Linked DNA regions of Homo sapiens: regions 1, 2, 3, 4, 5 and 6 are each reported to be linked to region 7. The links are microRNA targets in miRTarBase. Many come from high-throughput screens and were not tested one by one. Region 7 holds a microRNA gene; each other region holds the end of a gene's coding sequence. Distances are from middle to middle.
What was found. The annotated mature microRNA hsa-miR-5010-3p reads UUUUGUGUCUCCCAUUCCCCAG and lies in region 7 at 1,292-1,313, opposite strand. An mRNA with a match to its seed (bases 2 to 7 or 8) in the 3' UTR can be bound and repressed. Matches are read on the target gene's strand: a 7mer-m8 pairs with bases 2 to 8, a 7mer-A1 pairs with bases 2 to 7 and ends in A, and an 8mer does both.

Region 1 (3,116 bases), not on the chromosome of region 7:
GTGGACAAGGGGAAAAGGGCCAAATGAATGGTTTTGGAGAGGAATACTTACTTAAGAGCTGAAGTTATCTATCTACGGCCAATGAAATGTTACACTTGGTTCACTTCTGGGTGTACTCCAAATGGTATTATACATTCATTTGGTGGAATAGCTGTGTGATCTTTCAAATATTGGATATACATTTCATGCTGAAAATATGCTACAGAGGTTGGTAATACTTAATGTCAACAACATACATCTTTTGAAGTTATGTGTCAGCAATTTTCCTAAGCACTAGATTGAGAGAGTATAATGCAAAGAATAGCTTGCATTTATAAAATATTTTAAACATATGGCTTTAATTAATTGCCCAAGTGTTCAAAAAATAAACTGAAGCCTGACTGACTGTATAATTTTAATATTTGAAAAATTGCATCCAGAAATTAATACAATACAGATTTGTACAAAAAAGGAAGGACGTAAAAACTTCTAATCATACAGACAAAAATATGACTGACTAAGCAAAGATTTTAAAAAAGGACAGGATGTTTAAAAAATACTGATAAATACTGTGTAATGCTTTAATTTACTGTGGCAGATACAAAAATCAATAATTCATTAACAGATTATATATGTAAAAAAAGTAACTACATGAATTTTCTAGCTTTTTAAATTAATAAAATGTAACAGTAGTGGTTTTTATTTTTTAAATGAGGTATTATTACACTGTAAACCAAAAACAGAGCACAAATAAATAAAGGCAATGTGCAATTTAGTGATAAATGATTATACATTTCAACTTAACAACAGATAACAAAAATTCTCTAGTTATTTATGGACTTCGTCATCTAAAAATTTGGCTTGCTTGTGTGGACTTCTTATTTAAAAGTGACACAGCTAATCGATATACAAGCACATCATTAAACATGCAGACCAAGCCAACACAATTTTTCCATGAGTCATCTCTACCAAATAAAAACTGTTTACATTTTATTTAAAACACTTAAATCTGGTTTCTTATACATGTTTCTTTTGTGCTTATAAGTGGTAACCTACATTAAAAAGCTGATTTTCTAGTTCAAGCAGTGTAAGAGAGAAGCAGTTTTATTTGCATATGGATTTAAAACAGAGCAAAATGAAACAAAACCAGGATGCCTTTAACTCTCTTAGGCTTTCCAAGATTTTTAAGAAGAAATACCCTTGAAATAATATACCCAAATGGAAGAGCAGAATCACTTCCATCTCCAAGAGAATAGTAAACAAAGTGACCCCTTTTCCTCAAAGATTTGTGGGTTGGCTTCAGAACTGTTGGAGAACAAGCTGATTAGTTCCTCCACCCTGGAAGAATTCTGCTGGTTGGGTGCAGGAAGCATAGCAAGAAAATAGCCTAGCCCAGAAAGATTTTGGGGAAAGTATTATTTGCATATGAACCATATGCTGGTACTAAATGCTGGTTTCATTATTATTGCAAATATAACTTCAGAGTTTTCTGAAGGAAAGCTGTTAAAGTATGGTAGAGAAGTCTTGGTTTGGCAATATTTGTAACATGCTAATAAAACTGCTTCATTTGCTGTAAATTAAAAAAAACATTTACTGTCTGACTTAAAATGCAGTTTCTTTTTACATACTACTTTATTAGAAACTCTAAAAAAAGGGTACTTTGAATTTATTATATTCAGAATCCAGTGAAAAACAAACATTTTGGCCAAAACGTTGAATTTTATTTTTATACTAAGCTATATCATTTTGACACAAGTGTTATTATTGTATTCACTTTTGTCAAATACTTTAACCTATCTTTTTCAAAAATTAGTGTTTTGGTACAACTGGTGATCAAAAAATGTAGATATAAGTCTTGTACATGATTCAAAAGATTTATAAAAGCAGTTATATTCTTTTGTGCTTGTAACTGACATACTTCATCAATGATTATTTAGGTCTGATTTCTTTTCTAATATCTTGAGCCTTAAGAAGAAATGATCATTATACAAATATTACAGAGTACACAAGTAACTAGTTTACTGCCAATGTGCATGCAGACTAACAACACTTAAAAGAATATAACCTTGAATCCAATTAGTCTGAAAATACTCTTGTACAATCATCTTTATTGATTTGTAAAAGCTGTGTACACATCTAAAACCCTGAATTTACTTTGTAAAAATAAATCTTTAACAATAAATGGCACTATCAAAATCCCATTATTCTCAGGCTATTATGTAGTTATTTACATGCTTTTCAGCAACTGCTGAGAAGAATCTTATAGGTCCCAAGCCAGTATATCAAAAATCCCTGTAAACTGCATTTGCAATGATACTGTGTTGTATACCACTATATGAAAATATGGCTACATGCCTTATGTTAAAGATAATGTAGCTGTTTGCTTTGCTACTGTGTGCTAGCAGTGCTAGCAGTGTACAATCTGCCACTGGGTTCAACTATACCATAAATTCATTCTTCACTGTACTTTGCTTTCCCAGTGGAATGCCTGTGACAAACTACTTGTGGAGAATGATAAAGTGCTATATAAAAGAGGAACTGGACCATACCTGTCTCTGCCATGTGGACTTTTCCTCACTCAAGCGATTTCTGTGTGTGTTTTTAGAAAATTATGCCTTTGCTGAACATACTTCATATTTGATTTTTTAAAAACTTAATATTTTAAAGTTGGTGAGCTTTGTCAAAGTGTTTTGAGACAGAAACATGAAAAGGCTAAAGGCACAGTAAGAGGGAAGTGAATGCTACATATAAAAGATTATATTTCAAGTCTTCTAGGTTACTCAAGTCCAAAACCTTCTGAATTTGAAATTCCAATGATCAATTTCTGTTTCAGATCCTTTTTGCTCTTGTAGGGGGGAAGGCAAAGTTGATTGAAGCAGGTATGGGCCACAGGTAAGCTAGGGAAAAAAATTAAAAAAAAATACTAAGTCTTGAAACACACACAAAATGACTGCTATGCAACTTTAAAAAATACCAGGACACACACATTCAAATCTATTTCACTCTGTTAAGAGATGACTCATCCATTTCTTCACTGAACAGATATTTACTGAGTACCTCACTTTGTATCAGACACCACTCTAGACACTAAGGCTGTGGTTACAGACAAGACAACCAATGTTACCACTTTCATGAAA
Region 2 (3,116 bases), not on the chromosome of region 7:
AGGGCTGCAGGAAAGGCTGTCAGCTGCGCTGAGATTGTCAAGCGGCGGGTCCCAGGCCTGCACCAGCTCACCAAGCTACGTTTCCTTCAGACTGAGGACAGCTGGGTCCCAGCCTCACCTGACACAGGGCTAGACCCCCTCACAGTGCGCCGCCATGTGCCTGCAGTGTGGGTGCTGCTCAGCCGGGACCCCCTGGACCCCAATGAGTGTGGTTACCAACCCCCAGGAGCACCCCCTGGCCTGGGTTCCATGCCCAGCTCCAGCTGTGGCCCTCGTTCCCGAAGAAGGGCTCGAGACACCCGATCGTGAAGACCTGCTGAGCCAGCCTGTTCTCCGGGCCTGAATGTCTGGGGTGCTTGTGCCTTTTCTGAGAAGCGTTGTGACTGCTCAACATCCCCATCAAGGTTTGAGTCCACAAAAGTGGACCTCCCTATCATGCTTCCCCTTCCCTCTAGCATGTGGGAAGGGACTGCTGTGAAGAATGACAGATGTGGGGCCTCTGCCAAGTTCTGCATTGCTAAATAAGGGCTTCCTCTGCCTTCTACCTACAGTGCATTTGAACTGCCTTCTGAAAGAGGTCCAGGGAGGGATTTAGGAAATAAAGTTTCTACCTATTTGATGAGCCTCTACTCAGCCTGCTATGTGGAGTGGGATTAAAGAAATGGGAGTCCCCGCCCTTACCCCGGGGGGCTGATCGGGTGAAGACAGAGGAAGAGTAGTAGGCTCAGGCCGGTGCTGGGAGAATATAGTGTCTACAAGAAGCCTCAGTCAGTACTGAATATATCTAATTCCCTGGATAGTTATTTGCCCCTGCTTTGGCCTGGTTTAGGAACACTGCCAGGTCAGACATTTCTCTCCATCTGCAGCATACAGTATAGTATAGTGGTTGTGAGCATGGACTCTGGTACCAACCTGCCTGGGTTTCAATCCTGGTCTGCCACTTATTAGCAAGTTACTGCTCTGTGCCTTAGTGGTCTTATCCATAAAACAGGAATACGATAGTGTTTATCACATAGGATTGTTATGAGATTACATAAGGAAATATACATATATGACATTTAGATACCACACTGGCACATAGTGCTATTAAGTGTTAATTGCTATTATCGTTATTAATGACTTACCTATCCCAAATGCAACAACTGTCTCACACCTCCTTCCCTCCAGCTTCCTTGCCCCAATCTCAGCTATGGAGCTGGACTCTGCTTTGAAGAGACAGAGGCCTTTCGAACTCCCTCATGTTCCATCTTCACCTCCAGACCTGTCTGTATACACATTTATCCTCAACTCCACTAGTTTGCAAACATGCTTTTTCCTGTCTTAGAATCATATCTTTGGGTTGGGCACAGTGGCTGATGCCTGTAATCCCAGCACTTTGGGAGGCTGAGGCAGGAGGATTGCTTGATCCCAGGAGTTGGAGACCAGCCTGGGCAACATAGTAGGGAGACCCTGTCTCTACAAAAACATCTAAAAATTAGCTAGGCATAGTGGTGTGCACCTTTAGTCCCAGCTACTTGGGAGGCTGAGGCAAGAGGATCGCTTGAGCCCGGGAGGTTGAGGCTGCAGTGAGCCATGATTGTGCTACTGTACTTCGGCCTGGATGACAGAGTGAGACCCTGTCTCAAAAACAGAAAACAGGCTGGGCGCAGTGGCTCACACCTGTAGTCCCAGCACTTTGGGAGGCCAAGACGAGTGGATCACTTGAGGTCAAGACCAGCCTGGTCAACTTGGTGAAGCCCCATCTCTACTAAAAATACAAGAAATTAGCTGGGCGTGGTGGTGCATGCCTGGAATCCCAGTTACTTGGGAGGCTGAGGCAGGAGAATAGCTTGAACCCAGGAGGAAGAGGTTGCAGTGAGCTGGGATTGCACCACTGCACTCCAGCCTGGGTGACAGAGCAAGACTCTGTCTCAAAAAGACAAAACAGGCCAGGCGCGGTGGCTCAAGCCTGTAATCCCAGCACTTTGGGAGGCCGAGGAGGGCAGATCACGAGGTCAGGAGTTCGAGACCAGCCTGGTCAACATGGTGAAACCCCCTCTCTAGTAAAAATTAAAAAATTAGCTGGGCATGGTGGTGCGCGCCTGTAATCCCAGCTACTTGGGAGGCTGAGGCAGGAGAATCGCTTGAACCCAGGAGGCAGAGGTTGCAGTGAGCCAAGATCACGCCATTGTACTCCAGCCTGGGCAATAGAATGAGGCTCCATCTTAAAAAAAAAAAAAAAAAAAGGCCAGGGGCGGTGGCTCACGCCTGTAATTCCAGCACTTTGGGAGGCCGTAGCGGGCGGAACACAAGGTCAGGAGTTTGAGACCACCCCAACCAATATGGTGAAACCCTGTCTCTACTAAAAATACAAAAAAAAAAAAAACCAGGCGTGGTGGTGGGCACCTGTAATCCCAGCTACGTGGGAGACTGAGGCAGGAGAATTGCTTGAACTCAGGAGGCGGAGGTTGCAGTGAACCGCCACTGCACTTCAGCCTGGGCAATAGAGCGAGACTCCATCTCAGAAAAAAAAAAAAAAAAGCCAGGCATGGTGGCTCATGCCTGTAATCCTAGCACTTTGGGAGGTGGAGGCAGGCGGATCAGGAGGTCAAGAGATCAAGGCCATCCTGGCTAACACGGTGAAACCCTGTCTCTACTAAAATTACAAAAAATTAGCCGGGTGTGGTGGCGGGCGCCTGTAGTCCCAGCTACTCGAGAGGCTGAGGCAGGAGAATGGCGTGAACCCAGGAGGCAGAGCTTGCAGTGAGCCGAGATTGCGCCACTGCACTCCAGCCTGGGCGACAGAGCAAGACTCCATCTCAAAAAAAAAAAACCTCAATCCCACATCTCTCTCCAGGTCTCATCCTTGCCTTTTATTTATTTATTTATTTTTATTTATATATTTTTTGGAGATGGAGTTTTGCTCTTGTTGCCCAGGCTGGAGTGCAATGGCATAATCTCAGCTCACCGCAACCTCCGCCTCCCGGGTTCAAGCGATTCTCCTGCCTCAGCCTCCGGAGTAGCTGGGACTACAGGCATGCGCCACCATGCCCGGCTAATTTTGCATTTTCAGTAGAGACGGGGTTTCTCCATGTAGGCCAGGCTGGTCTCGAACTCCCGACCTCAGGTGATCCACC
Region 3 (3,000 bases), not on the chromosome of region 7:
ACTTCAAACCTGTGTAGTTCATGGGTCAACTGTATACTCTAAAACTGCTATTTAAAATTTAAAAATCAAGTTGTGACCATAAAGTATTCTCTTTTGGGAACTGAGTGAATGAATTCTGAATCTGGCAGTGGAAATGAATATGATGCATTGCATTACGTGGCTTCAGCACTAAATAATTTTTCCCACTTTTCCCTTCCGCACAGATCGAAAGCTGCTTTGCGTCGCAGTTGGAGCAGCACCCCCACCGCAGGTGGCATTGAAGGGAGCGTGAAGCTGCACGAGGGGTCTCAGGTCCTGCTCACGAGCTCCAATGAGATGGGTACTGTTAGGTATGTGGGCCCCACTGACTTTGCTTCAGGTATCTGGCTTGGACTTGAGCTCCGAAGCGCCAAGGGAAAAAATGATGGGTCAGTGGGTGACAAGCGCTATTTCACCTGTAAGCCGAACCATGGAGTCTTAGTTCGACCGAGCAGAGTGACCTATCGGGGAATTAATGGGTCAAAACTTGTGGATGAGAATTGTTAAGCTTCTAAAATATTAAATAAGCTCAAATATATATATTTGGTGTAAATAAAGAGTCCATGGTAAATGGTTTACTTTATTTAGCCATATTAAAATTTTGAAAATATAGTTATCTTCTTAAAAACCATTATAACAATTCAGAGAGAGTTCTTTACAAAGCCATGAATATGAACTATGGGGAATCATGGTTCTTTTAAAGCAATTTTCAAAATAAGTACCAATTAAAGCTTTAGGTTCCAAGAAGATTCTGGGACTCAGGAAGAAAAAGTGCCATCAGGTGACCAGCTGTTGCATTTCTTGCTTATTCTGTTTTGTTTTTGCACATCATAATGGATTTTTCTTAGTGCCCTAATTGTGAAGGGTTTCTCTAGCTTTGGTTATGTGTAATGTTCACGTGACCTTTTTTTGTCAATCATTTTTGGAATTTTTCTTTCTTTCTGTGCTTTATTACTAATAAGTCCAATGAGTGAGTAGTAGCTAGATGACTAGTATGTAGTTTTATATTTTGGTAAAATTATTTGCCCTTTCAGAAATGCCTCATCTAAAGATACATGATAATTTTGGAGTTGGAAGGGGCCTTAGAGGCTCTCCAGCTCTGCTTCTTGCCCATTGCCAAATACTGAAATGGAAGCCCGTCTTACCTGGGGTCACTAACTGGTTGGTTAACTGAGCTAAGAATAGACTGTGGGTCTCCTCACTTGTGGCCCAGTGCTCTTTCTGCTATACAAAATGTCTAATCTCAGATTTTTCTTCTGCTGCTTGACTGCTTCATCTGGATGAACTACAAAAAACCCATGATTAAGGTTTATGAATTCAAGTAATAATTAGATTTTTTTTGCACAGACTTACTTAACTTCCTTATTGGATATGTTTGTAACACATAAACACAAAGCACTTTTCAAACATGATGCACTTTTATCTTTGTGAATAATTTACTGTCCTTTCCTCCTGGGATATGAGAAACATTTTAAAAAACGTATTTAACAGAAGAGAGCAAATAAAGATATATCAGGAAGGATGTATTAGTTATTTACTTAAATGTTTATAATATCTGGATTTTTTTTGTTTTGTTACTCATAGAACTGGTGTTGTTTGCTGTTTTTATTTCTCTAATTGTTGCAGAGTTCTGCCTGTTACAAAGCTACAGAACTGTATTGTTTTTATTTTCCTTCTTGAGCACATGTTAACAAACTAAGCTTCACATTAGAGTGATGTCATAATGTAAAATGTTTGCATTGTGGTTAGGTATTGAAGTTTATGTCCTGTCTGTGTAAAGATTCATCTTTTATTGTAAATATTTAGACTTTACCACAGAAATATTGGAACAGTTTGCTTTATAAGATTAAAAAGCATCCTTCAGAATGGAGCTTGCCTTGTGCTTAGAAATAATATGTTGAACTATTTTGCAATATACTATTTTAAATCTAAATTCTGTCACTTCGCTGCCTTTTTAAAATAGTGTGGTATTTCAAATATTGCTAGAGCTATTTTCCTGAAATACATTTGCAAAATAAGGCTGCTTTGTAATCAAGGAATATTTTTATTGATTGAAGGAAATGACTGTACTGCGATTCAAAAGTAAACTTATTTTATTATACAGATTATTTCTTAAAAACTCTATTTATACCTTAACATGAAATCCATGACCACACCAAACTTGGTTATTCATAATTTTTCCTGTTAAATATAAAACACTGTAAGTTAAAAACAGTAATGCCAACATTGAATTTATTTTTGAGGTCAAAGAACCAGTTGTTCTCTTTATATTTAGATGAGGATGATTGAGTCCATATACTATGTATGTTTACATATACTATACATGCACATTAGGTGTTTTCATTTGTGTTTTGCTTATGAAATGTCATTTAAAGTTCACTTCTTGAGCATCAATAAAAAGGGAAGCTGTGTGGTTTTGGAATGGTATCTTGTCATTTACCCTATTTGCAACTCTGCTTTTCTCAGTAACTCAGGGTGCATATGCTTTGAACTTTTTCCTCACGGTAATGGCTTGGATTTGTCCTGTCCCTATAAAGAGTATTAAAAAGTATCATGCTTTCTACTCAACAGTCTATGTTCATAGCCACCATCCTATTAGTATTGTTTTGATGAATAGTGAGTCATTTAAGAAAAGAACGTATTTCTACAGTTGGGATTTCACTTGTTTATTTAGGGTAGGATGGAACACTTTGAATTTAGATTAAAAAATAGAAATAATTAGCTGCCTTTTACTAAAAAACTTTGTTTTTATATTTAGGGTGATTTGGGGGGAATATTTTTAAGTATGTAAGAATGTTGAGTACTGCTGTTTGCTAACTGTGAACTCTGGTGTTGTAATCTTGTTGTGAGTCTCTGGCACCTCCTCCCAAGAGCTCCTTGTTTCCCTCTCATGTTTTATTTTTCTCTTTAGCATTTGGTCATGCTTATTACTGATTACAACTTCTTGCTTATTATTTCTTTCTTCCTTCACGAGATTGAGGA
Region 4 (3,116 bases), not on the chromosome of region 7:
TTTATCTGATTTATCCAGAAGTTTGCATCTCTTTGTTATCTTTTTTTGTTATTCTATTATGTTCATAGTATATTAAGTAATGTACAGTTGCACCTTCTCTAATACATAATTATGTAAAGTCCAAAGCATTGATGACCATTTTGAATTTTCAGAAACTGTATGTTTTCTCACATGGGAACAAGAACAAACCAGAAATATAAAATAGAATGAGAGTTTCATGAAAGAAAAGGATTTAGCCCACATTTCCCCTTACCACTAAAGAATTCACACACCACACACTTCTCACTACCTTTAACTCTTAGTTCTGTTAAGAAGTTTTCCCACACTCCAGTTTCAAGAAGTTTTCTCTATTATTTGTTGCTTTGGTTCACTGAAGAATTCAGTGTTTATGTTTTTTTACAGAATTATCAATTGTTTTGAATCAAAATAGAAAATTGATTCAAAATTGTTTTGAATCAATTGTTTTGAATCAAAATAGAACGCTGAAGGGTATAAGAATAACATTACTACTTGAGAATTAAGTAGTACTTAAGGGACACAAACTAAGAATACACATGCAAGATTTATATAACTGTCAAACAGTTGCTATTGGAAGCCACAGCTACCACAAAAGGTAGTGAAAGAAGCATCATTTTATCCTAAAAGGAAGTCGTCTATGTGTTCCTTATGCATTTGTAGAATACCAGTTGCACCAGTAATATTGGCATGTCATTTGGTTATTGCTGTCTCACCAAACCTGCTCCACAAGAATAAGTGGGGATACTTCACATAAACCATACATAGCTGCTGCAAAGAGATTGTCATCACAATCCTTCAATCACCTTGCTTTTCAAAATTTTTTTTAATAGTTAACTAAGTTAGGAAAAAGTTACCATCTTCATCAAATACTTAAAATTGTAAAGCAAAATATATGGAATAGAAAATGGCATTCGTTCACGTCAGACACTTGTGATGATAAAGTATGGTACTCTGTGAGTGGACTGATGACCAAGGCAGATGTGTACAGATGCTAAACTGTTGGGAAAATGCTGCTTATGAGACATCTCTGCTTCTTGAGACCTGAATCTGCAAATGTTGAGCACTGTACCTTACAAAAGCCAACAGTTTCTTGGCACAGAGTGTAAAAGTTTCATGGGTTAGAATGTTGGTGAAATTGTACACTCAGTACCTGAATTTAAACTTTAGGAGCTCAGTATGTATATTAACCACTTTCCTTCTCAAGGGATGCCATTCCTTTCTTCATTCATGAGGAATTTTCAAAATCAGGATTGTGATTCCAAGGCAATCGATATCTCCATTTAAGGAGCTTTCTGCATCCACTTTATTTAGCCAGAGAGGGAAGGGGTTGACATAAACGAAAAAGTGGATCAAATAGTCAAGAACATGATGGGCGCGGCAATGAACTGAACCACTTTTGCTAAGTGACAGAAAAATATTCTAATATTAAGGATTATTTTACAACTCTATGGAAGTAATGCAGTGATGCATCTTGCATCTGTTTTGCCTTGATGACAAAACGCACTCTTAGAGTCACAAGATCCTGCCTTGTGTTAGTTATAAACAAAAATATATTTATATATATATATTTATGTAACTACTATGTGCTTTAAAGAAAATTACTGTATGATTCAGCAGGGTTTTTTCATTCTTTCTATCGCCATGCTGACGTGAATGGCTTCTTAGACAGGAATCAGCAATGAAATGGGTGTTTAGTACTGAAAAGGCATAAAATTAAAAATAATCATATGTTTAAAATCCCTTAACATTTTTGTTTCAAAAATGATTAAGGAACTCTTCATACTGTTTCCTTTTGTTTCCATCAGCCCAGAGCAACTGTGGTTTCATGGGACTTAACAGTTGGGGATTGGAGGTAAGGCTTCCATAAAGCATAAATCAGATGTTTTCATGCTGAGGCAGGAAAACAGAAAGCCCCGTTTGCCACCCCCTCTTCCCAAATCCTTAGTTAATTGTTCGGAAATTTTGTCACAGCTCATAGAAAGGTCATTCATTACAAAGGAAGAGGCAGACATGGTTTGAACCTCCTGTACGGATAAAAAGATTCGTTCTGTAAAGTGATGAACTTGTTGGTACAGATGGATCTAGACCAGAAAAACAACATCCTTTTGCCACACATCTGTTTTGAAAATGTAGAAAATCTCTTATTTTGTGTTTGTTCTCACTCTTGCATGGGCTGTTTTTCTTAGCAATCTTGAGACATTCATCATTGCTCTTTTGAGTGAAAGGGTTCAGGCTTTGGAAAACAGTTATCTTTGAGACATCAGAGAACATTTGAACCAAAGGTGTCGATCCCTCATGAACTAAAGCTTTATTATGATTTTTTTTTTCTGATCCCTTTGCAACCCTGCACCTAAGCCAAAAGCATTATAATCTTGTCATACTTCAGATAAGTCCACGGGAGATGTTCCGAGTGAACTATAGATGACATTCCACTAGGGAATTCTATGTTCAGTGTAAATGGTATCTTGTATAAGTTTTAGTTTTTTGTTTACCCTTTGTTTCCTGGGCTGAGCTTGTCCAGAAATCTTGTCTTCTTCAGGCTACAGCAGCTTAGAGCTTGTTTGTGTGTGTGTTTGTTTGTTTGTCTTAAAGGTATAGGCAAAATTTTAGTCTTAACACCTGTAAACCAGTACTGGTGTTGTTCTGTCCTAGAAATTTTAGCACTGCTCTGATACAATAAAGCCTTCTTTCTCTCCAACTGGTTCAACTTCAGCATAGGCAGGATGTCCAGAGCCTCTTCTAAACTTCATCGCAGGCCATCTGCTTGGGCGTCTCTGAAACAGAAAACACAAAAATAAAAAATGTGCGTCAGGGTAAGATTCTAGCACCAGAAAAATCTATTTGCTAGCTATTTTAGATTAAATGTTGAATTAATTAACACATTAAATTATCTCTTATTATAGCTACAGTCAGAATTAAGAATTCCCCTTATCAACCCTCCAAGCCCTGTGCTTGCATTTCCAAGATGGCGCTATCTACCCCTGTCACAGGAAAGACCATTTGTCACACCTGCCCTCAAAGGATTCAGAGCTTCTCCCAAGCAAGGTTTAATGCCTTATGCATATGTCTGAAATGCTCAAATATAACTAGGCAAAAAG
Region 5 (3,116 bases), not on the chromosome of region 7:
CAGTGAAAAAGAGGAAGAGGAGGAGGATAAAGAGATGGAAGAATTGCAGGAAGAAAAAGAATGTGAAAAACCACAAGGGGATGAGGAAGAGGAGGAGGAGGAGGAAGAAGTGGAAGAAGAAGAGGTAGAAGAGGCAGAGAATGAGGGAGAAGAAGCAAAAACTGAAGGTCTGATGAAGGATGACAGGGCTGAAAGTCAAGCAAGCAGCTTAGGACAAAAAGTAGGCGAGAGTAGTGAGCAAGTGTCTGAAGAAAAGACAAATGAAGCCTAATCGTTTTTCTAGAAGGAAAATAAATTCTAATTGATAATGAATTTCGTTCAATATTATCCTTGCTTTTCATGGAAACACAGTAACCTGTATGCTGTGATTCCTGTTCACTACTGTGTAAAGTAAAAACTAAAAAAATACAAAATACAAAACACACACACACACACACACACACACACACACACACACACAAAATAAATCCGGGTGTGCCTGAACCTCAGACCTAGTAATTTTTCATGCAGTTTTCAAAGTTAGGAACAAGTTTGTAACATGCAGCAGATTAGAAAACCTTAATGACTCAGAGAGCAACAATACAAGAGGTTAAAGGAAGCTGATTAATTAGATATGCATCTGGCATTGTTTTATCTTATCAGTATTATCACTCTTATGTTGGTTTATTCTTAAGCTGTACAATTGGGAGAAATTTTATAATTTTTTATTGGTAAACATATGCTAAATCCGCTTCAGTATTTTATTATGTTTTTTAAAATGTGAGAACTTCTGCACTACAAAATTCCCTTCACAGAGAAGTATAATGTAGTTCCAACCCGTGCTAACTACCTTTTATAAATTCAGTCTAGAAGGTAGTAATTTCTAATATTTAGATGTCTTAGTAGAGCGTATTATCATTTAAAGTGTATTGTTAGCCTTAAGAAAGCAGCTGATAGAAGAACTGAAGTTTCTTACTCACGTGGTTTAAAATGGAGTTCAAAAGATTGCCATTGAGTTCTGATTGCAGGGACTAACAATGTTAATCTGATAAGGACAGCAAAATCATCAGAATCAGTGTTTGTGATTGTGTTTGAATATGTGGTAACATATGAAGGATATGACATGAAGCTTTGTATCTCCTTTGGCCTTAAGCAAGACCTGTGTGCTGTAAGTGCCATTTCTCAGTATTTTCAAGGCTCTAACCCGCCTTCATCCAATGTGTGGCCTACAATAACTAGCATTTGTTGATTTGTCTCTTGTATCAAAATTCCCAAATAAAACTTAAAACCACTGACTCTGTCAGAGAAACTGAAACACTGGGACATTTCATCCTTCAATTCCTCGGTATTGATTTTATGTTGATTGATTTTCAGAATTTCTCTACAGAAACGAAAGGGAAATTTTCTAATCTGCTTTATCCATGTACTTGCATTTCAGACATGGACATGCTATTGTTATTTGGCTCATAACTGTTTCCAAATGTTAGTTATTATGGACCCAATTTATTAACAACATTAGCTGATTTTTACCTATCAGTATTATTTTATTTCTTTTAGTTTATAGATCTGTGCAACATTTTTGTACTGTATGTCTTCAAACCTGGCAGTATTAATACCCTTCTTACTGACATATGTACTTTTAGTTTTAGAAAACTTTTATATTTATGTGTCTTATTTTTATATTTCTTTATTTATTACACAGTGTAGTGTATAATACTGTAGTTTGTATTAATACAATAATATATTTTAGTATGAAAATTTGGAAAGTTGATAAGATTTAAAGTAGAGATGCAATTGGTTCTCCTGCATTGAGATTTGATTTAACAGTGTTATGTTAACATTTATACTTGCCTTGGACTGTAGAACAGAACTTAAATGGGAATGTATTAGTTTTACAACTACAATCAAGTCATTTTACCTTTACCCAGTTTTTAATATAAAACTTAAATTTTGAAATTCACTGTGTGACTAATAGCATGATGCTCTGCAGTTTTATTAAGAAATCAGCCTAACCATACAACTCTCATTTCCTTAGTAAGCCAAATTAGGATTAACTTCTATAAACAGTGTTGGGAACAATGTTTAACATTTTGTGCCAATTTGTTCCTGTATTCATGTATGTAAGTTACAGATCTGACTCTTCATTTTTAAGTTCCTTGTTACATCATGGTCATTTTCTAGTTTTTTACCAGACTCCCATCTCACAATAAAATGCATCAACAAGCCTGAACTGCTGTCATTCTTTTCATCATTATCAGTATTTTCTTTGGAAAACTGTGAAATGGGGTACATTGTCATCCTGCATTTGATTCATCTTGAGCTGAATTTGGGTAACACTAAATGTTTTAGACATTCTCCACTAAATTATGGATTTTCTTGTGGCTAAATGTTTCTGGAGAGGTCAGAGTTGACAAAACCTCTTCACAGGTTGCTCCTTCTTCCTGAAATCCTTAATCCTCCGCATTTCATGCTTCAGGTCATTTCAGGGAAGCCTGGGTTTAGATGCCTTTCTGACTCTCAGCTCCTGCACTTCTGTCATCATACCTCTGATACTATTATTTATATTCCTTCCCCACTAGGAACAGGAACCACATTTGTCATAGTCACTCTCACATTCCTCACTGCCTAACAGGGTGCCTGGCATAAGTTGGGACAACAGATATTTGTTGAATAAAAATATAATTTGCATGTTTATGGAGCTCAGCTATGTTCTCACTTTTTTTGCTTCTAATTCCAGAATATATGTTAAATGATCTAATAATTTGATTATTTTCTTATAAGTCTTATTAAACACTAGTCATAATAGACACAATAAATTATGCCTTCTTTTTCTATTGCCTTACTATTTTGATTTTTTGAAAGTGTATTTCTAGGTGTCTTCCTGGTGCTTAACCTCATGGTATATGGCACAGGTATTGCTGGCTTGTGGACATGACTACCTCCAATAGGAGCGATAGGACTGATCCTAGTCAGCTCTCCTTTGTAGAATTCACTTCCCTTTCTAGGACCCCATATTCGTAGGTGCTCGTTACCATGTTGCCTGATTTCCCCTGTCACTGAGAGCAGCTACCAATAAACAGACTGACTGAAAAGGATTAGGAACTAAGAATAAGATACTCTTCTTAGGAGGTATCCAC
Region 6 (3,105 bases), 6.5 Mb from region 7:
GATTAATTCCTAATTTTGCCACTTTTAGCTATGTGGTTCATTATGAAACCCAAGCTTGAGGGTCTAGGCTGAGTGGAGAAGGGACTGAGAGAAGGGATGGTAAGGTTCTGAGGCCAGAGAGAGAGGCTGTCTGAGGGAACCCAGCCAGGACAGGCCCAGGGAAGCTTTAAAGAACATAAGGTGAGCTCCATGTGAACCAGAGGTGGGGGTGGGCACCGGACTCCTGCCCGAGTCTGCAGCCCATGACGGTCTAATTCTGCCTCTGCAGCTTCGTCACCAAGAGGAACCGAGAAGTCTGCACCAACCCCAATGACGACTGGGTCCAAGAGTACATCAAGGATCCCAACCTACCTTTGCTGCCTACCAGGAACTTGTCCACGGTTAAAATTATTACAGCAAAGAATGGTCAACCCCAGCTCCTCAACTCCCAGTGATGACCAGGCTTTAGTGGAAGCCCTTGTTTACAGAAGAGAGGGGTAAACCTATGAAAACAGGGGAAGCCTTATTAGGCTGAAACTAGCCAGTCACATTGAGAGAAGCAGAACAATGATCAAAATAAAGGAGAAGTATTTCGAATATTTTCTCAATCTTAGGAGGAAATACCAAAGTTAAGGGACGTGGGCAGAGGTACGCTCTTTTATTTTTATATTTATATTTTTATTTTTTTGAGATAGGGTCTTACTCTGTCACCCAGGCTGGAGTGCAGTGGTGTGATCTTGGCTCACTTGATCTTGGCTCACTGTAACCTCCACCTCCCAGGCTCAAGTGATCCTCCCACCCCAGCCTCCCGAGTAGCTGGGACTACAGGCTTGCGCCACCACACCTGGCTAATTTTTGTATTTTTGGTAGAGACGGGATTCTACCATGTTGCCCAGGCTGGTCTCAAACTCGTGTGCCCAAGCAATCCACCTGCCTCAGCCTTCCAAAAGTGCTGGGATTACAGGCGTGAGCCACCACATCCGGCCAGTGCACTCTTAATACACAGAAAAATATATTTCACATCCTTCTCCTGCTCTCTTTCAATTCCTCACTTCACACCAGTACACAAGCCATTCTAAATACTTAGCCAGTTTCCAGCCTTCCAGATGATCTTTGCCCTCTGGGTCTTGACCCATTAAGAGCCCCATAGAACTCTTGATTTTTCCTGTCCATCTTTATGGATTTTTCTGGATCTATATTTTCTTCAATTATTCTTTCATTTTATAATGCAACTTTTTCATAGGAAGTCCGGATGGGAATATTCACATTAATCATTTTTGCAGAGACTTTGCTAGATCCTCTCATATTTTGTCTTCCTCAGGGTGGCAGGGGTACAGAGAGTGCCTGATTGGAAAAAAAAAAAAAAGAGAGAGAGAGAGAAGAAGAAGAAGAAGAGACACAAATCTCTACCTCCCATGTTAAGCTTTGCAGGACAGGGAAAGAAAGGGTATGAGACACGGCTAGGGGTAAACTCTTAGTCCAAAACCCAAACATGCAATAAATAAAACTCCCTTATTTGACAGCTTGATTCCTAACCTCCTGCTTTTTTTTCTGCTAGGGTGAAAGAAGCTTAATCTCAGTTTTTTTCAGGGGCTTCTCCACATTTCTTGAGACTTTTGTCAAGGTTGGGGGCCATTTATATTCAATCTTCCCCTCTGTCTCCAGCTTAACAGCAGACAGCTGACTCAGCTCGCTTGGATTCAACATTCTCCCAAAACGCTGTTGTGAAGACAAAACAAAAGCCAGGTAATTAAGACCGGATGGTTAAGACAGGTAATTAAGACCGGATGGTTAAGAGAAACAAATAAATGCAGTGAAGTGTCAAGCTGAAAACGGGCCAATGAATTGGATTCTGGTAAACTGACTCATAACTGCCCCCCAGTGGCCATGTTGTTAAAACCCGAGCCTCCTCCCTTGGCCGGCGCGGTGGCTCACGCCTGTAATCCCAGCACTTTGGGAGGCCGAGGGGGGCAGATCACGAGCTCAGGAGATCGAGCCCATCCTGGCTAACACGGTGAAACCCTGTCTCTACTAAAAATACAAAAAAATTAGCCGGGCGTGGTGGCGGGCGCCTGTAGTCCCAGCTACTCGGGAGGCTGAGGCAGGAGAATGGCATGAACCCAGGAGGCGGAGCTTGCAGTGAGCCGAGTTCGTGCCACTGCACTCCAGCCTGGGCGACAGAGAGAGACTCTTGTCTCAAAAAAAAAAAAAAAAAAAAAACGAGCTGCCTCCCCAGCCCAAGCTCATCTTCCCAGGATGGCCATCTCATCTAGCTGGCCAATCAGACTCTCAGAGAGATTTGAAATTTGGACCTGAGAAACTCAGTCTGGTTGCTGCTAGAGCAGAAGTGAGTTTCTGGCAGTGTCCCAAGGAAAGAGGTCTATGAACTTCTGTCCTGAGGTCCCTGGAACTGCCTCACTTCCTGCCCCAGCTCCAGGCTGGGAGCTTCAGCTGGTCTTTCAGTTCCATGAGATGTCCCAGCATCTTTCCTTTAAAAAAATTTCTAGGCCAGGCGCGATGGCTCACACTTGTAATCCCAGTTCTTTGGGAGGCCAAGGCGGGCAGATCACTTGAGGCCAGGAGTCTTGAGACCAGCCTGGACAACATGGCCCATCTCTACTAAAAATACAAAAATTAGCTGAGCATGGTGGTGGTCGCCTGTAATCCCAACCACTCAGATGGCTGAGGCATGAGAATCGCTTGAACCCAGGAGGCAGAGGTTGCAGTGAGCTGAGATCATGCCACTACACTCCAGCCTGGGCAACAGAGCGAGACTCCATCTCAATTTAAAAAAAAAATTCCTAAAGGGCCATGGTGGCAATTTAGCACCTCAGGAATAACTTATTGGTTTAGGTCAGTTCTTGGCGGGGGATGATGGATGTATGTGTGTTAAAATAGACATAACAGGGGCTGGGCAAGGTGGCTAACGCCTGTAATCCCAGCACTTCCAGAGTCTGAGGTGGGCGGATCACTTGAGGCCAGGAGTTCGAGACCAGCCTGGGCAGCATGGCGAAACCCCACTTCTACCAAAAATACAAAAAAAAAAAAAAAATTAGCCGAGCATGGTGGCCTGGGCCTATGGTCCCAGCTGCTCAGGAGGCTGAGGCAGGAGGATCCCTTGAGCTG
Region 7 (3,000 bases):
TCCCCACCTCAGGTGATCCACCCGCCTCGGCCTCCCAAAGTGCTGGGATTACAGGAGTGAACCACCGTGCCTGGCCCCCAACCCCTCCCCTATTTTTTTTTTTTTTTTTTTGAGACAGAGTCTCGCTCTGTTGCCCAGGCTGGAGTGCAGTGGCACAATCTCAGCTCACTGCAACCCCTGCCTCCTGGGTTTAAGAGATTCTTTCCTGCCTCAGCCTCCTGAGTAGCTGGGATTACAGGCACGTGCCACCACACCTGGCTAATTTTTGTATATTTAGTAGAGACGGGGTTTTACCATGTTGGCCAGGCTGGTCTCGAATTCCTGACCTCAGGTGATTCACCTGCCTTAGCCTCCCAAAGTGCTAGGATTACAGGCATGAGCCACCGTGCCCAGCCAAACTGTACTTTTATGTGCTACATCTGGCAACGCTGGTTTGAGGTGGTCACAGCCCAGACCACACCCCCGCTCTCCCAGTCCCAGAGGCTGAACTCATGCTCTCTCCACACACAGCCATTAAGAGTCACAAGCTTCATTAAAGAAAACAAACAGAACCACCCCAAACCTGCCCATGTGAAGAAGCTGCGTGAGTGTACCGACCTCCACCCTATAGAGCCAGGAATCCCTCCGGTCCACAATGGAGCTGCCAGGGGTCCAACTCAAAGACCCCTGGCACAATGACAGAACAAAGAGGATAAAGCTGGGGTGCAGCGTGTTCTAGCCTTTCCTGCACTTAACATACATTCCAGAGCTGCTTCCACTGTTCTGAAGACAGAAGAGTTACACATCAGAGAGAAAACCAGAAACCCTAAGACCCCAGCAGCCCCTTTAAGCCAAAATCAGGAGCACTGGGGACAGCTAAAGGCAGGGAGCGGGACCTGACACCACTCACCAGGGACATCTCCCTAGAGCCTAGGGAAGGCTGAGCTGTGCTTTTCTGTGACCATTTTCCGAAACTCTGTGGCAATGCCGGTGCTGGGGTGTCCTGAGGTGAAGCTAGTGCAGGGCCAGCTCATCTTTCCTGCACAGAGCTGCAGGGCTGTGTGTGGGAGAAAAGCTGCCCTCTCACCGCAGCTAAGGACACATCCACCCCCATGCCCGCCCTGCCCCACTGCCCCTCACCAGTGTAAGCGCAGTGCGTGGAGAAAGGCCGAGAGGCCCTCCATGATCAGGAGGATGGCCACGGTCAGGGTGGCAAAGGCAGTGAAGAAGAAGAACAGCACCAAACCTCCCGCCAAGCTCTTCACGCTCAGGCCGATGTGGATCACCATGGTCCAAAGCACCTCAGACAGCTCTGGGGAATGGGAGACACAAAATCCAGTGCAGTTTGGCAAGAGGCAGCTGTAGGCCATGAATTTTGCTCTGCCATCCCCCTGCTCTAGGGTTCCCTGGATCCTGGCTTCCCACTGCCTTAGTGGGACCACCATGCAGAGCTAACCTGGCACAAGTGCTGAGCCTCCTGTCTGTACTCATTCTCCTTGGGTTCAGGAACCTGAATAATTCCAGAACCTTCATGTAATTTCCATTTGACTTAAGCCCCCCAACTGACAGTGCGCCCACAGAGGGGGAAACTAGAGTTCCGGAGCCCGGAGAGAGGTACTCACGCGCATGAGCGAGGCTGAGGGCCCAGAGCCGCAAGTAGGAGGCAGTGTTGGAGATGCAGCCCAGGCAGTACTCGATGGTGTGGATGGCCTGGTGGACCATGGTGTCCCCAAAGTCAAACTGTCGTGGGAGGAAACCAGAGAGAAGATATAAGGCTAGGAGGGGAACGTGCAGGCATTCTGAGTTGTGGCTACTTGGCGCTTTGAACCTGGGCCAGGGCAGGGGACTGCACTTCCCATGGATGGCACCTCAACTCTGGAGGGGCCAGAAGCACCCAGTGTTGAGCTCAGGTGGTGATTTCGGCAATGCCTTCCCCAAAAATCCTGCCTGACTTAGCCCTCACCTGGGACACCTCCATTCCCCTCAATACATTACATTTTAATTAACTACATCTTAATAAGATTCTTTTCAACACATTTGTTCTTCTCCCTCTGGGGCTCTGTGCTCAAGAGAGGAGTGTGTGCTGAGTTGACGGCACTCTGTTGAGAAAGTGACTGTCTGGGTCTGGGACCCTAAGGACCTGCAGGAGGGCAGGAAGGGATTTTCCCCAGAGTGCGCTTCAGGAGACAGACTCTCAACCCGGACACTGTCCTGAGAAGACTAGGCCTCTATGGCCACTTTACTTATTCTTTTTACAGCCTTTTGGGAGCAAGATAACCTTCTTTTTCTTTTGTGACTTCTAAAGAGATTACACGGTGAATTTTTTTTTCCCTACATGATTTCACCACCATGCACAGGGAAATCCTGACAAAGTTTACAAATTTCCACATGGGTTAAGGCCAAACAGCATATCTGTTTGGGTTAAGACTAAATAGCATATCTCCAGTTTCTTGTTTGTTTTCGTTTTCCTCAAGCTCCCTTTGTCCCAGTTTTCCTTTCAATACCAAGAATTATTTCCAGAATAAAGGAATGGGCTGGAACAAGCTCTTGGGAGTGAACTTTCAGGTTTGCTCCAAGCACAGTCAGGGGTGAATGTGGGCTTCTGAATTTGGTATATTCTGGAAGCCCCAGGTACTTTCCCTGGGCCTCTCTGTCAAGCTGACCAAAGACCAGGAGGCGCTCCCTTATGGGGCTTCCCCCCGCAGAGCCCAGACCAGAATCTTCTGAGCTTTCAGACACTCCTGAGGGCTCAGTGGCCTCCCCATCGGCCCCTGCCCTCAGGTCAGGGTCTATTTTTCACCGCAGTTCCTTTCAAAACCCACGTGATTCCACTCCCAAAGGACACCAGAAATGCCTTGGGAAATCACTGAGAACATGGGGATGGGAGAAAGTGGCTTGGCTGGTAAAGCCACAACAGCCCAGGCCACAGGGGTGCAGCCAGCGTGGAGGGGGCTGGCTCCACCATGCCATCTCTGGGCGAACGTCTGCTTCTCCCTCACCTCTGTCGACACCTAGCCTATT

Region 1: the mRNA of HECTD2 is a reported target of hsa-miR-5010-3p. Seed matches in the 3' UTR shown: 7mer-A1 at 1,875-1,881 and 7mer-A1 at 1,010-1,016.
Region 2: miRTarBase lists RPP25L as a target of hsa-miR-5010-3p. Seed matches in the 3' UTR shown: 7mer-A1 at 414-420.
Region 3: miRTarBase lists CLIP4 as a target of hsa-miR-5010-3p. Seed matches in the 3' UTR shown: 7mer-m8 at 1,407-1,413.
Region 4: miRTarBase lists PLXDC2 as a target of hsa-miR-5010-3p. Seed matches in the 3' UTR shown: 7mer-m8 at 2,579-2,585 and 8mer at 2,163-2,170.
Region 5: the mRNA of ZEB1 is a reported target of hsa-miR-5010-3p. Seed matches in the 3' UTR shown: 8mer at 456-463.
Region 6: miRTarBase lists CCL16 as a target of hsa-miR-5010-3p. Seed matches in the 3' UTR shown: 7mer-m8 at 1,376-1,382.

Annotation. Positions count from the first base shown.
Region 1 is chr10:91,512,024-91,515,139 of GRCh38, reverse strand. It overlaps HECTD2 (HECT domain E3 ubiquitin protein ligase 2), which reads right to left. Exons shown (of 21, transcript NM_182765.6): 21 at 320-2,876. The coding sequence ends at 2,756. The region is part of intron 3 of HECTD2-AS1 (HECTD2 antisense RNA 1); the gene reads left to right. Among named protein-coding and RNA genes, the nearest start is that of HECTD2-AS1, 98 kb to the left of the region's middle.
Region 2 is chr9:34,607,998-34,611,113 of GRCh38, reverse strand. RPP25L (ribonuclease P/MRP subunit p25 like) reads left to right here. Exons shown (of 2, transcript NM_148178.3): 2 at 1-619. The coding sequence ends at 309. Among named protein-coding and RNA genes, the nearest start is that of RPP25L, 2.5 kb to the left of the region's middle. RefSeq lists an enhancer at 1-99.
Region 3 is chr2:29,181,369-29,184,368 of GRCh38, forward strand. It overlaps CLIP4 (CAP-Gly domain containing linker protein family member 4), which reads left to right. Exons shown (of 16, transcript NM_024692.6): 16 at 204-2,440. The coding sequence ends at 525. Among named protein-coding and RNA genes, the nearest start is that of CLIP4, 67 kb to the left of the region's middle.
Region 4 is chr10:20,279,379-20,282,494 of GRCh38, reverse strand. It overlaps PLXDC2 (plexin domain containing 2), which reads right to left. Exons shown (of 14, transcript NM_032812.9): 14 at 1-2,792. The coding sequence ends at 2,676. Among named protein-coding and RNA genes, the nearest start is that of MIR4675, 270 kb to the left of the region's middle.
Region 5 is chr10:31,526,994-31,530,109 of GRCh38, forward strand. ZEB1 (zinc finger E-box binding homeobox 1) reads left to right here. Exons shown (of 9, transcript NM_001174096.2): 9 at 1-2,811. The coding sequence ends at 271. Among named protein-coding and RNA genes, the nearest start is that of MACORIS, 180 kb to the right of the region's middle.
Region 6 is chr17:35,974,895-35,977,999 of GRCh38, reverse strand. It overlaps CCL16 (C-C motif chemokine ligand 16), which reads left to right. Exons shown (of 3, transcript NM_004590.4): 3 at 269-1,501. The coding sequence ends at 434. Among named protein-coding and RNA genes, the nearest start is that of CCL16, 5.0 kb to the left of the region's middle.
Region 7 is chr17:42,512,580-42,515,579 of GRCh38, reverse strand. MIR5010 (microRNA 5010) reads right to left here and starts at 1,392; the gene lies at 1,273-1,392. ATP6V0A1 (ATPase H+ transporting V0 subunit a1) reads right to left here. Exons shown (of 22, transcript NM_001130021.3): 20 at 1,602-1,719; 21 at 1,120-1,291.